Homo sapiens: one gene and its partner. The protein of the gene in region 1 interacts with the protein of each later gene in a biochemical or structural test. Each region holds a gene or a part of one and is shown in the gene's direction. Other genes may lie near its edges.

Evidence for each region. Proteins that work in one complex are often made in the same cells at the same time.
Region 2: the proteins of CYB5A (region 1) and CYP3A5 interact in a biophysical measurement, tested with the Homo sapiens proteins (one study listed by IntAct).

What each region holds. Positions count from the first base shown.
Region 1 is NC_000018.10:74,253,942-74,260,963, reverse strand, and holds part of CYB5A (cytochrome b5), read left to right. Parts: intron 1-19; coding exon 20-49; intron 50-4,110; coding exon of another isoform or gene 4,111-4,119; exon of another isoform or gene 4,120-5,025; intron 5,026-5,188; coding exon 5,189-5,223; intron 5,224-7,022.
Region 2 is NC_000007.14:99,676,988-99,684,862, reverse strand, and holds the start of CYP3A5 (cytochrome P450 3A5), read left to right. Parts: upstream 1-4,866; 5' UTR 4,867-4,966; coding exon 4,967-5,037; intron 5,038-7,875. UniProt on the Homo sapiens protein: A cytochrome P450 monooxygenase involved in the metabolism of steroid hormones and vitamins.

The sequences.
Region 1 (7,022 bases):
CCTTATCTTTTCATTGCAGGATGACAGACCAAAGTTAAACAAGCCTCCGGTAAGTGTGACCATCTCAAGTATCTCTGGATGTTCTCGTTGTATTTAATACTTGTCAAACTGAAGGCAGAGGGTTTTTATTTACCTGACTGATGCCAGCACAGGTCTTTCTAGATAAATGAATATGTAACCTACTGGCTCAGCAAGTATTTTTTATTTACGGAAACCTGTCAGTATGATTTGTTAGGATGGCGTGTGTGTAATTTTTTTAAGGCTGTCAGTAAACTACTTTTTTCATCATAATTATCAATATATACCATTTGAAGAGCTACTTTTTATGGTAGCACGTGCTTCTGATCTAAAAGATTTGACACAAGCCTTATTTTCAGAGAACTTAAAATCTGAATGGATAGTGGTTTTATTACTTAAATCTTTAAGGGTGTGTCTCATGTCTTCTTCATCTTTAAGTCTCTTGGGCATAGTAGGTGTTCAATAAATACTTGTCAGATGAATTTAATGAAATTAAATAATACCCTTTTGACTTACTTTTCCTTGGGAAAGGAAAATAACTCTGGCAATACTAGTTTTATGTTCTGATTCACTAGCCTTTCTCTCTGAACTGACCATCTCACTTATATTTGAAGATAAATGTAGGGTGAGAATGGAAGAGCACAGCCTAAGTTCCTGAAAAGTACAAGTAGGCAAAATAGTTTCTAGTGTCTAATTAAAGGACTACAGGGGAAAGTTTTGCTTAAATCAAATGACAAAAAAGAAAGTATAATTTTTCGTTTTGGTGTAAATTCTTGGTTTCATTAGAGAAAGTGCAACAGCAAGACCCCACTGAGCTTGTGTCGAGAACTGGTGAGCTGATTTTTTGAGCTGTTGCTGCCAAGACATCATCTTTAATCTACAAAAGGATCAAAGCAGTTAATCCAATAATATAAGCATAAAGGCCACATTTACCTCAACATCCCTGATAGTACAATAAAAGTCTTGTGTAATACTATTTAGTACAAAGCAATTTTTTTTATATTCTCTCCTTATTCAAGAAAGACTTAAGTTCAATGTGAATGATATGAGTACTTCCAGGAGATAAAAAGTTGACTTCAGAATTTCAATGGCCTCTGTGACAATTGCTTAGAATCCTTGCTGTGAGTTCATTTGACTTTAGCATCTTTTTTGAGGCTACTTTTTGGACAGCTGAAATTCTGTGTTGCATAAAGTTTTTCCTTTTTCTCTGAAGTCTCTTAAGGGAAGAATATATATTTTTTTTATCATGTGTTCAGCATGTTAATCATTTTGGTATAAGTCATTTAGCTATAGCAAAACAAAGGTTTAAGATTCATTAGATGAACTTAGATGACCGCAGGGCCAGCCGTCTCGCTAACCATAAAGACTACAAGCAGAAAACACTTGTAGGTGTAAGATTGTACATGTGTCTCCTGCCATAACTACTTTCAGTTTAAAGGACAAAGACTTTCTTCCTTATTTGCTTTTAGAACACGTGTATTACAGCCTATACTCTGTTGGATTAATTGCCCATTACTATTTATTGTTCTTATTTTCTATTTTAAAGTGGCAGTTACTTTGATACTGAGAATATTTTGGGAACAGAGCAAGTTTATGTGGTAAATTCTGGGACTTTAGCTTTTAGTATCAAAGAAAGCTTTCCTGACAACATTGAGGCACAGCCCTTTGTGCGTTAAGACATGGCTTACTTCATTCCAGCATTAGCAGTTGATACTTGATCAGCTTGTTAGATGTAGAAGGTCTCACTGAAGTTTGAGAATCACACTAACTTTTTAAAGTAGATTTTTGTTTGTTTGTTTTTGAGACGGAATTTTGCTCTTGTCACCCAGGCTGGAGTGCAATGGCGTGATCTCGGCTCACTGCAACATCCACCTGCTGGGTTCAAGCAATTCTCCTGCCTCAGCCTCCCGAGTAGCTGGGATTACAGGTGCCTGCCACCATGCCCAGCTAATTTTTGTATTTTTAGTAGAGATGGGGTTTCACCATTGTTGGCCAGGCTTGTCTTGAACTCCTGACCTCAGGCATTCGCCTGCTTCAGCCTCCCAAAATGCCGAGATTACAGGTGTGAGCCACGGCACCCAGCCTAAAGTAGATGTTTTTACTCTCTTCAGAGATTTTACAGATTAACTAACTTCTGAGTATTTTTTAAACAACTCTTCTTTATTGTGACTTTGCTTCAGTGAGAGCAGAACCGGAAGAATGTGGGACAAGAACTTGCTGGCCTTTTTGAGAGGCCATAAGCAGATGAAATGAAAGGAAATACATGAGCATTTTTCTGGATGTATCTTTCTTGTGCTTTTGGTTTAGTGGAAGTAAAGAGTGTCCTTAGGGATTTCTTTTGTCATGTGTCTGTATAACCATCGGCCGATCTCCAGGTTGAAGAATGTACACTGTGGTCTAAAGTTTTGAGATGTTGCCTGCTTAAAATATCTAGTTGAATAGTGAAATAAAATGCAGTAAAGATTATTAGCTTGAACCTGCCCTAAGGAAAGCATAGTGTTAAGTTACCAAATTAAGATATTTGTAGACTTAGAAATCATGCATTTTAATCTAACATAAATGTTTCTATCACATTTGCTTACATAGAGAATATTAGTCGTAGCAATACCCCTTCTTGGTTATAGTTTTGAAAGCATTCTTGTAGAAGTTATTTGGTCCTCACAGTGTCTCCATGTTAGACCTGCCAAGGGAGGTAGGTACATTGCAGCTGGGAAGTGTTAAGCACCCGGCTCACAGACGTGCTCCAGAACCATCTAGCACCCATCTCAGGCTGGTCAGTTGCAGTCCCTTAAGCTTCTCCTCTAGGTTCTGGGCTTGCCGTGTTAGACATCACTCTGTCAGTATTTTAAGGGAGATAGGCTTCCCACTAAAGTTTACGTTAGATGAACTTATAAATGAGATGACTCTGATTCACAAAAGCTTGTTGGGCTTTGCATGCTTTTCATAATTTATGGAGCTTACTGTAATTTACACTGATTCACATGACTTTTATAAGTCATTATGCATGACATACTTATTTTACTTTTTTGAGACGGGGTCTCACTCTGTTGCCCAGGCTGCAATGCAGCGGCATGGATCTGGACTCACTGCACCATCCACCTCCCGGGGTCAAGCAATCCTCCCACCTCAGCCTCCCGAGTAGCTGGACCATAGGCACACAGCACTGTGCCCAGCTAATTTTTGTATTTTTCTGTAGAGACAGGGTTTCACCATGTTGCCCAGACTGGTCTCGAACTGCTGGACTCAAGCAACCCGCCAATCTCGGCCTCCCAAAGTGCTGGGATTACAGGCCTGAGCCACCATGCCCAGACTTTGACACACTGATTTAATTGTTAACCTCTTTTTACTGAAGTTGAACCTCGAAGTCATGGAGTGAACAGGTGGCAGAGCCAATCATAAAAACCATATTCTTTCTCCTTGTTCATTGCTGACATTCTTTGATAGTCACGTCCCTAAACCCAAGTGAGGCCCTCAGAGCACTGACCACTAAAGACCAATTACTTTTCCATCAAAGTGCAAAGTGGTAATTCAAACTTCCTTTAACTGTCAAGCATCCTGGGCTACAGAGCCAAGAAGATAATCAACAATCAAAAGGTGATACGATTATTTCAAGTTCCCCTCTTTAGAGTTCATGGCTGTTGCTGATGATGCTGGTGCCAGAGTAGTGTTTTAACCTTAGCGCTCTCCCATGGTAACCACAAAGGCAGCAGGAGGGCAGGTGGGAGGTTCCAGAGTTGTCAGCACGTTGGTGAAATGCCTGCCCTCATTTTAACGACGCCGTGGATGTTTGTGTTTGCCTTCCGTTGGCTGTTTCAAACTTAACTTTCTAGTTTGACAATCATATTTTACCTTCAGTGATTCTTTTGTTTCAGAACTGATTGTGTCCTCTAATAGCTAACTAATATTTTTGTATATTTTGATTATTTCTAGTAATTTTTGTTAATTTTATTCATATATACACAATTTGGAAAATCCTCTTGCTGTAGTTATGAATACTTTTTATAGATGCTAAGATTTTAAAATTGCTGGAATAGATAATAAATTTGCAATTTTATTTTTAAATGACTTACCTTTTTTCCCCTACTGTGTCAGGAACCTTAAAGGCGGTGTTTCAAGGTTGGTGGGTCTCATAACTGCTTTGCTTGCTTTTCCCTGAAAGGGGTCTGTCTTTTCACGGGAGTTTCTCTAACGTGCTTTGCAGAGTGATGCTTGCCTTACTGCAGGCCGCTGATTGTTTTGCTAATGCTTTTTATCTTTGCTTTGGGAAACTGCAGATCTGAAGCTGTCTTATTTATGGCAACTTCTGTTTGAGGCCCTAATGCTTATGTTGGTGTGGAACATCAAAAGAATGCTTCTTAACCCATTTTCAAGCCCCAAAAAGTTGATATTTCACTAGACCTTAGCTTTTCAGCTGTTGGAGAAGTATGCGTTTTTCCAGAACCATTGTCCATTCACTTTAGTGCTACTCAAAAGAGCTGCTCCCAGAAAGCTCTGGAGGATAAAAACAGGGCTTCCTTATCTGGGGATTTGCTGTTAGGCTGACAGTGACCAGCTGGTGACAAGTGTGACGCCGGGCACAGCAGTCCTGTGAGGCTGGTCTGGTGTCTTGCTGGTTCCGTCTGGTCAGAATTAAAGCAGCCCCCCGGGAAAGTTGGCCTAGAATGTAGAACTTAAAATGGCAGTCCTCTTTTTTCTTTTTGGTTCACATATATTTAATGTAATTTAGGTACACTTTTTTACATCTGTCAGATTTGAATGAAATAACTGATGTTTTTATTGAACATTGTGTTCATGCTTTTGAAGAATTAAACTGCTTTTTCTAAAGGTGACGTGGGATTGTGTGTATGTGAACATGAATGTCTGTTTTCAGTTTCTGCATTATTTAGATGCCTAGCGTGTGCAAGATATTTTATGTAGCATATTAATTTTGAATGTTTTTAAATTATTGAGGTTATGTCCTTAAGTAAATATAATGATTAAAATGTTTTACTCTGGAAGAAAACAAAGTTAGGCATTTTAGTGAAAAGAAGTTTATAATTTTCCCTTTCGACATCTTCTGAAGAATGCATTGCATAAAATATTGTGTTCTTATTTTCAAACAGGATTTTAGTCAATGAAATAAGTTCAGCATTCCCTTGAACTTACTTTACTTTTTCCTCTCGTGTTTCAGGAAACTCTTATCACTACTATTGATTCTAGTTCCAGGTATGTGGTAGCTTTCTTTTAAAGCAGTAGTGGGTGGGAGGGCTCATGGGTCCAGGTTGGACAAGGTGCGTCCCCCACCTTCTGGGTTCCTGGGCCTGACACTGTGCTGTCTCAGCAACCTTCTGCTGAAGGCCAGACTGTTCAGAGCACTCAGCCTCAAACTTTCAGGTAGCCGACTGTGAACACTGTCCACAGCCACGTGATCTAGCTGGCTGGCTGCATCCACCCCAAGGAACAAACAGAACAATTGCATTTCCTTTTCCCCCAGGGCAGCATCTTAGGCGGCCAGTCCCACAGCACCTCCCTGGCTCATCCAAGCAGACATTTCCTTCCTTTCAATCCATGTCTGTTTCTTAAACTCTAGTGATTACATTTCCCTAAACATGGGTCAGTTTTCCTTTGTCATTTTTATTAGCTTTAAAGTTGAAGCTGGTAATCTATGTGTAGCACGACTCAATTGTTCTAGGCACCAGATTTGTTTATGATAGTCCAAGTGCACATTAACATCTTTGGCAGCTCTACCATATTGACTTCAGTAGTAGCCACTTTTTTGGACCCAAGCTCAAAACCACACATTTGTATTTCATCCTGTCAAATTTAACTGCCTCAGTCCGTTGGTGTTCTGGAATATTCCCTGCCTGCAGGCAGTATTTCACCTTACTCTTCATTAACAAGCCAGTTTCTTTCTAAAGTGAAATTGAAAAACCCCACCAAACCCCACTAAGACAAAAGTTACACTTGTAATTCTTATGAAAGTTTCACTTGTAATCCTTATGAAAGGATTATACTTGTAGTCCCTATGAAACACATATGTATACCAAGTCTATTTCTAAAGCCTACACATTAATTTCCATTTTTCTAAGAAATTAAGTCAAAGATCAAAATCTAAAGATTCAAATCTAATTTAAAGATTCAAATAGAGGCCAGGCGCGGTGGCTCACGCCTGTAATCCCAGCACTTTGGGAGGCCGAGGCAGGTGGATCACGAGGTCAGGAGATCGAGACCATCCTGGCTAACACAGTGAAACCCTGTCTCTACTAAAAATACAAAAAAATTAGCCGGGCATGGTGGCGGGCGCCTGTAGTTCCAGCTACTCGGGAGGCTGAGGCAGGAGAATGGTGTGAACCCAGGAGGCGGAGCTTGCAGTGAGCCAAGATCGTGCCACTGCACTCCAGCCTGAGCAACAGAGCAAGACTCTGTATCAAAAAAAAAAAAAAGATTCAAATAGAAATTATAGCTCATCCCTCCTTTGTCCCTGATTTGATTTGTAATCTGTAATTTATAGATCGAAATTCTATGCATCAGGACTGTAAATTTAGGCTTTTTTTTTTTTTTTTTTGGTGAATTTAGACCTGTGGACCACACACCAAGTAGTCTGGCCATTCTGTTTCTTAACCCTTTAAATCCACTTCAGCACAGGTAGTAAAGATTAGATTTTCCAAACCTAAGCTTAAAGCTGTGGTGTTAATGGCAGTGTTAATCATCACAGGGCCCATACTCTTCAACTTTACAGCTGGTGGGGCATTCATTTTTTGGTTTGTTTATTTTTGTTAGTTTGTTTTTGAGACAGTCTCGCTCTATCACACAGGCTGGAGTGCAGTGGCGTGATCTCGGCTCACTGCAACCTCTGCCTCCCAGGTTCAAGCGATTCTCCTGCCCCAGCCTCCCAAGTAGCTGGGATTACAATTAGCTACTGCCACCACGCCCAGCTACTTTTTGTATTTTTTGGTAGAAGGTTTTTACTATGTTGGCCAGGCTGGTCTCAAACTTCTGACCTCAAGTGATCCGTCTGCCTTGGC
Region 2 (7,875 bases), on another chromosome or scaffold:
CCATTAACTCCTCCTGAGCTCTGATAAAAGAATCAAAATTTCTCAATAATTTCATCCAAAATTATTAATGAAAATAAGAATTATTTTGATGGCTCTAACAGTGACATTTATATCATCTGTTTTATCTGGAGCATTCTATAATAAGTTTATATTAAGCAAATCAATAAAAACCTCTTACAAAAGTATCATCGGATACTTTCCTGAACATTAAGGAGAAATCTATAGAACTGAATGAATGAGAACCAACAAGTAAATATATGTGATCATTGTAACCATTGTTGGTGTGGGGCATTTGTCAGAACTCCAATGTGATTATTAACATAGGTGAGAATTAATCCACTGTGACTTTGCCCATTGCTTAGAAAGAACATTCATAGTTTAATTATGCCTTTTTTGACCAAGCACAGTGGCTCATGCCTGTAATCCCAGCACTTTGGGAGGCCGAGGTGGGTGGATCACCTGAGGTCAGGAGTTCGAGACCAGCCTGACCAACATGGTGAAACCCCATCTCTACTAAAAATACAAAAATTAGCTAGGTGTGGTGGTATGCACCTATAATCTCAGCTACCCAGGAGGCTGAGGCAGGAGAATCACTTGAACCTGGAGGCAGAGGTTGCAGTGAGCCGAGACGCACCATTACACTCCAGCCTGGGTGACAGAGTGAGATTCCATCTCAAAAAAAAAAAAAAAAAATTATGCCTTTTTGAAGCACATACATTTTATAACATACAACTGAATCCCTTATTATATTATTAGTTTTGATTTAATGTTTTCAAACCATCTCCCCTGATATTTCTGGGAGATGGGAAACATGTTTTCTTACACCTCTTGCATTCCATTCTCAACTCCCAACTGTCTTACTGCAATGAACACTTAATAAGAAACAGTCAATTGGTCAATTGATTGGGCAACAGGCTAAACACACTCATTCCTTGTCTGTTCCCACTTCTTTCTTTACTTTCCCTTCCTGAGTAACTTATCCTAAAGTCATTAGGTGGGTGGCAGCCAGATGGTGGCCACACATTAAGGTAGAAAAGAGAGTGTCATGATGGTTCCAAGTCAGAGACCTAGTAGGGTGAGGATCAAGTAGGTGTTCACGTGGAGAAACAGCCCGGCCTGTGTGTGGGAGTCCAAGCAAGCAGAGAAAATGTCGACACAGAGGGGTGGCCTGAAAAAGCAGCCAGAGCCTAAACAGGGCATGGAGAACATATTTAGGGCATGAGGTGAGGAGGGCATCCATGAGTGGGAAGGGATGGGTGAGGTTTCACTACATAAAGGGGATTGATGAAATAAGTAAATAAAGTATACTGGAAGCCAGGTGTGTCACTTTTGCAGAAAAGAGTCATGGATTCAGAAAGGGAGAAAACTAGCAGGAATCCTATGAAATTAGATTAAAATGGATGTATCCATGTATATTCATACCCTTCTAGATAGATAAATGGTTAGATAGGTGATAAAAAGATAACAAGAGGACAAGATAATTAGATAGACATAAATGTATGTATGTGTTTGTGTGTGTGTACAAAAAAACATATACTCCCTACTTCTCTCCACTGATAGGGCTAGGTAACAATGGCATTTCAATAGCAATGAGCACACTTAGTGGCCAGATCTTGGCTTATTAATACCATTTTCCACTGAAAGGAACCAGAGCTTTTTAGAGAAATGGCTGATTCCAGGGCCAGGATTAAGAATGTTCAAGATAAGCCTAGGATACATTTTGTGCCAGGAAGCAAGAAGATGTTCAAATGATTTCCAAGTAATGTTTGGAAATGATATTTGAAAATGATTTCCAAATGATATTTCCAAATGATTTCCAAATGATATATGGAAACACTTAAAGACTCCACTAAAGAACTATTAGATCTGATAAACAAATTCAGTAATGTTGCTGGATACAAAATCAACATACAAAAACCAGTAGCATTTCTGCATGCCAACAGTGAACAATCTGGCAAAAATAAAAAATGTAATCCCATTTACAATAACCCCAAATAAAACTAAATACCTGGGAATTAACTTAAGAGAAAGATGTCTACAATTAATATTGTAAAACACTGATGAAGGAAATTGAAGAAGACACAAAAAAGAAGGATATTCCATGTTTATATATTGTAAGCATTAATATTGTTAAAAATGTCCATACTACCCAAAGCAATGCACAGATTCAATGCAGTCTCTCAAAATACCAATGGCATTCTTCAAAGAAATAGAAAAAAAAAAACCCTAAAATTTGTATGGAACCACAAAAGACCCAGAATAGCGAAAGCTACCTTCAGCAAAAAGAACAAAACTGGAGGAATCATATTACCTGACTTCAAATTATACTACAGAGGTATAATAACCAAAACAGTATGGTACTTGTATAAAAACAGACACAGACCAATGAAATAGAATAGAGAACCCAGAAACAATTCCACACACCTACGGTGAACTCATTTTCAACAATGTTGTCAAGAACATACACTGGGGGAAAAGACAGTCTCTTCTGGTGCTGGGAAAGCTGGATTTTAACATGCAGAATAATGAAACTAGAACCCTGTATCTCACCAGACACAAAAATCAAATCAAGGTGGACGAAAGACTGAAACCTGGCTGAGTGCCGTGGCTCATGCCTGTAATCCCAGCATTTTGAGAGGCCGAGGCGGGTGTATCACTTGAGGTCAGGAGTTCAAGACCAGCCTGGCCAACATGGTGAAACCACATGTCTACCAAAAAATACAAGAGTTAGCTGGACATGCTGGTGCGTGCCTGTAGTCCCAGCTACACAGAAGGCTGAGGTGGCAGAATCACTTGGACCCAGGAGGCGGAGGTGGCAGTGAGCTGAGATCATGACAATGCACCCCAGCCTGGGCAAGAGAGTGAGACTCTGTCAGAAAAACAAAAAACAAAAAAACAAAAAACAAAACTGAAATCTGAGACCTCAAACGATGAAACTGCTACAAGAAAACATTGTGGAAACTCTTCAGGATATTGGTCTGGGCAAAACTTTCTGAAGAACTACCCCACAAGCACAGGCAACCAAAGCAAAAATGGACAAATGGATCAGATCAAGTTAAAAAGCTTCTGTACCACAAAGAAAGCAATCAACAAAGTGAAGACACAAACCACAGAATGGGAGAAAATATTTTCAAAGTCACACTCTGACAACAGATTAATAGCCAGAATACATGAAGCGCTCAAACAACTCTGTAAGGAAAAATCTAATAATCCAATCAAAAAATGGGCAAAATTTGAATAGACATTTTTCAAAAGAAGACATACAAATGCCACATAGGCATATGATAAGGTGCTCAACATCACTGGTCATTAGAGAAATGCAAATCAAAACCACAATGAGATATCATCTTACCCCAGCTAAAATGGTTTTTATCCAAAAGACAGGCAACAACAAATGCCAGCGAGAATGTGGAGAAAAGGGAACCCTTGTACACTGTTGGTGTAAATTAGTGCAACCACTATAGAGAACAATTTGGAGGTTCCTCAAAACATTAAAATTAACATTAAATAGAGCTACCACAATATCCAGAAATCCCCATGCTGGGTATATACCTGGAAGAAAGGAAATCATATATTGAAGAGATAACATCACTCCAATATTCACAATAGCCACTATTCACAAATGCCAAGATTTGGAAGCAACCTAAGTGTCCATCAACAGATGAATGGATAAAGAAAGTACTCCAATTATACACAATGGAGCACAATTCAGCCATGAAAAAAGCATGAGATCCTGTTATCTGTAATAATATGGATGGAACTGGAGGTCATCATGTTAAGTGAAATAAGCCAGGCACAGAAACACAGATATTGCAAGTTCTCACATACTTGTGGGATCTACAAATCAAAACAACTGAGCTAATGTCTGGGCCTTAGTCAGTGTTGTACCCAAGTACTGGGAGCACAGCTTTTAAAATACATCATGAATGCTTTAATACAGGAATGAATAGATGAGAGGCACAAACTGGTTGGGTGTTCTTCTGATACACAGTATCTTCCTTGACAGATTCAGTACAACTCTCAACAGGTAAGTCTCTTCATGTTATGTTACCTTATGAGGAATTAAGTGGCAGAACATGATTTCTATTATTTTCCTTTGCAGAACAAGACCAACTTTATTAGTTGGGACACAGTGTGGCTGCATTTGAGTCCCAAGCAACCATTAGTCTATTGCTATCACCACAGAGTCAGAGGGGATGAGACGCCCAGCAATCTCACCCAAGACAACTCCACCAACATTCCTGGTTACCCACCATGTGTACAGTACCCTGCTAGGAACCAGGGTCATGAAAGTAAATAATACCAGACTGTGCCCTTGAGGAGCTCACCTCTGCTAAGGGAAACAGGCATAGAAACTTACAATGGTGGTAGAGAGAAAAGAGGACAATAGGACTGTGTGAGGGGGATAGGAGGCACCCAGAGGAGGAAATGGTTACATTTGTGTGAGGAGGTTGGTAAGGAAAAATTTTAGCAGAAGGGGTCTGTCTGGCTGGGCTTGGAAGGATACGTAGGAGTCATCTAGAGGGCACAGGTACACTCCAGGCAGAGGGAATTTCGTGGGTAAAGATGTGTAGGTGTGGCTTGTGAGGATGGATTTCAATTATTCTAGAATGAAGGCAGCCATGGAGGGGCAGGTGAGAGGAGGGTTAATAGATTTCATGCCAATGGCTCCACTTGAGTTTCTGATAAGAACCCAGAACCCTTGGACTCCCCGATAACACTGATTAAGCTTTTCATGATTCCTCATAGAACATGAACTCAAAAGAGGTCAGCAAAGGGGTGTGTGCGATTCTTTGCTATTGGCTGCAGCTATAGCCCTGCCTCCTTCTCCAGCACATAAATCTTTCAGCAGCTTGGCTGAAGACTGCTGTGCAGGGCAGGGAAGCTCCAGGCAAACAGCCCAGCAAACAGCAGCACTCAGCTAAAAGGAAGACTCACAGAACACAGTTGAAGAAGGAAAGTGGCGATGGACCTCATCCCAAATTTGGCGGTGGAAACCTGGCTTCTCCTGGCTGTCAGCCTGGTGCTCCTCTATCTGTGAGTAACTGTCCAAACTCCTCTCTTTGTTTCCTTGGACTTGGGGTGCTAATCGGGCCCCTTTTCCCTTATCTGTTTTGAAGATCAAAAGAGATGTTCAAGGAGAAGTAGCTGAAGTGTTGGACGCTACAAACGCATAGAAGTTATTATTATCTTATGCAGATCTATGAATGAATAAATAAGCATTTCTCCCATCCACCTTCTAATTTTGGTGACTAGGAGGGTTTAGGGACAGCATTTGGTAGTGGGAATGATTTGATTAGCTTAGATCTGACGAAGACTAATCAATGAAAACATGGCAGCGGCAGATTACAAACTGCTGATCATGATGGACAGTGTGATCCTCATCCCCTTCCCAGGCTCTGGGGATTCTGGGTACAGGAAGGAGTGGCTTGCATTTTTGTCTCATTAATTCGCTTTCTGGGTTCTGTGTCTGCTGGAAGGGATGTGTAGCTGTATTGCCCCTGTAGACCTGGTTCCTGCTCCCCCGCCTTCCAACCCAGGATATCATTTACATAACGCACCAGGGGACACCAAGACTTCATGGGAAGCTGTCCCCTGGCTCTTCCCTCTTTCCTGTGCCATGCCCCTGAAAATCCCCTCCCTCCTATGAGTCACTCCTCCACCCTGTCATACACAGGATGGTTTATCTTGCAATGATTAACCTCTAGAGCAAAGGAGACCTGGAGGAAGTTTCGAGGATTTATTCTTTGCTTTAATCTTTTTCCTCCCGTCTCTGGGAGGCTAGGATTAATATAGAGCTTTGTTTCTCACCTAATGGGAATCTACTAGCAGCCTGAAAAGGCAGGAGCCATGAAAGCCAATTTGGATTTTACATATTTTTCCCCTTTATGTTACAGTACAGGAGGGCAAACCCTCTCACTGGTGGGATTCCTGGCATCCTAGAGCAGGTGGAGAGAAGAGTTACTTTCCACTGTGGGTAGTGGAGGCTCCACCTGTCCCATTAACTTCTACCTCAATTTGACTTTTATTAAGAGCAGGGAACCACAATGACATGAAAATAGACACTATAAACCTCATTTTAATTCTTTCACAGAAAGCTTAGGAATTCAGTGAGTTGTGGCAACATGGTTTCCATTGTCTAACATTTTTAAATGAATTGATATGGTTTAAATTCATTCATTTTTAAACCAGAATTTTTTGGAGATAGACTATTTCCAGCATGTTCCTTCTGGATGGTAAAACAGGGCTGTTAGTTCAGTATTTGTGACAATAAGTGTGTGTAAAATAATGTCACCTTTCCTGAATGTCAGGAATATGAGTCTAATGCACAAATGTATACCTCTAAGACAAGACTGCACGTCTTTTCAAATATACCTGTCCGGCCATTTATTTTAATAACTCCTTTTCGAATATACCTGCTTAGCAGATTGTCTTAAACTCTCAGGACAGGGGAGTAAGCAAGACTGTGAGCCAGTGACGATAGCAAAGGCTTCCAGGTAGGATCCATATGAAGTGAGAAAATATTCCTCAGCTCTCAGGGTAGAACTCCAAAGAGATATTCATGGGTCCTGGCCCCACCGTGGAGGTCACTCAAAGGGCAAACAGGTTGGCATCTCATCTGCTTCAAGCCTGGACACAGGGGCACCATCTGTGTCACTCTGTGTGTGGTCTGCCATGTTGTGGGCCGGTCACTACAGACTCGGGCAGCCAGGCAGACAATGCCTTAGCCTTAGACAATGCTGGTGCAGCCCAGGAGTCAGAAAATGCAGTGTAGACCAGGCCCTCCTTAGGCCAACACAATTACATGCAATAGATGACTGGCTTTTCTGTTAGTCTCTTCACTGGACCCAAAGGCTGCATTACTCTACCAGAGGGGAGCTGGAAAGAAACTAAAGAGTTCGCCCAGCACAGCATCTGCCTTGACATGGTACCATGTGAATCTAGACACTCACCAAGATCTTTCCTTGGGGGCCAATGCTGCTGACACATTAACTCAATAGCTTGTCCTCACCTGAGAGGTCAGGTAATGTGTTTAAAGTTCAGGAGCAGAGATTAGTGTCATTGATTTGACATGGCTGTGACAACAAAGGAGGGAACTGAAGTGGGAATACCCAAGGCCACCCTGGCTTTGGCAGGTGGTGCACGCACTTCCACTAACTGTTCTGGGGCAGGGAACCAAATGTATGACTGGGCCTGCTCATGCTGCCCCTGCTGAGTCCTCCAAACCCTGCCCTTCATGTAATTTCTCAGTTTTATTTTATCACATTTTATAAGTCACTGGATGTTTACAAAATGTTTGGAACCTATACTGCCTTGAAGGCTAACCTCTAAAGAGGAGTAAACAAGGTCTTAATACAACTCTCCGGGACGTTTTATCATTACTTATCTTATATGCCATACTGCACCATTTGCTATCAACAGGAAAGTACCTGGACTTTGGAAGGTCCCTCTGTGTCTTTTAGCTGAAAGTACATATGAGGCATGTGGATTCTTTTATGCACATCATCTTTTTCAGCCACATTTTTGTAGTTTGCCTCTCTGGAGCCAACTGTGTGGGGCTAGCAGCTTCACAGCTGAATCAGTGTCTGGCAACCTCTTCCTTCAGCCTCTCTTCTTCCTCCAGTTTTCCATCCCTCAGTCACACCGGAGGGGGAAGGTCTGCAAGGATCCAGAACCATCAGTTGGAGGAGTTTGCACATGACTCATGAAAGATGAGTTCCAGGCAGGCCTGCCATAGTGAACACCAGGCTTAATGGGTTTTTCCTCAGAGATACTTCACGTACAGAGGCAGTGAACTGACTGCTTTCTGGTTGACCACCTTGAAAAAGATGAGTGTGCCTGGCACTGTGCTTCTCAGGTGAGTATGACCTGAGA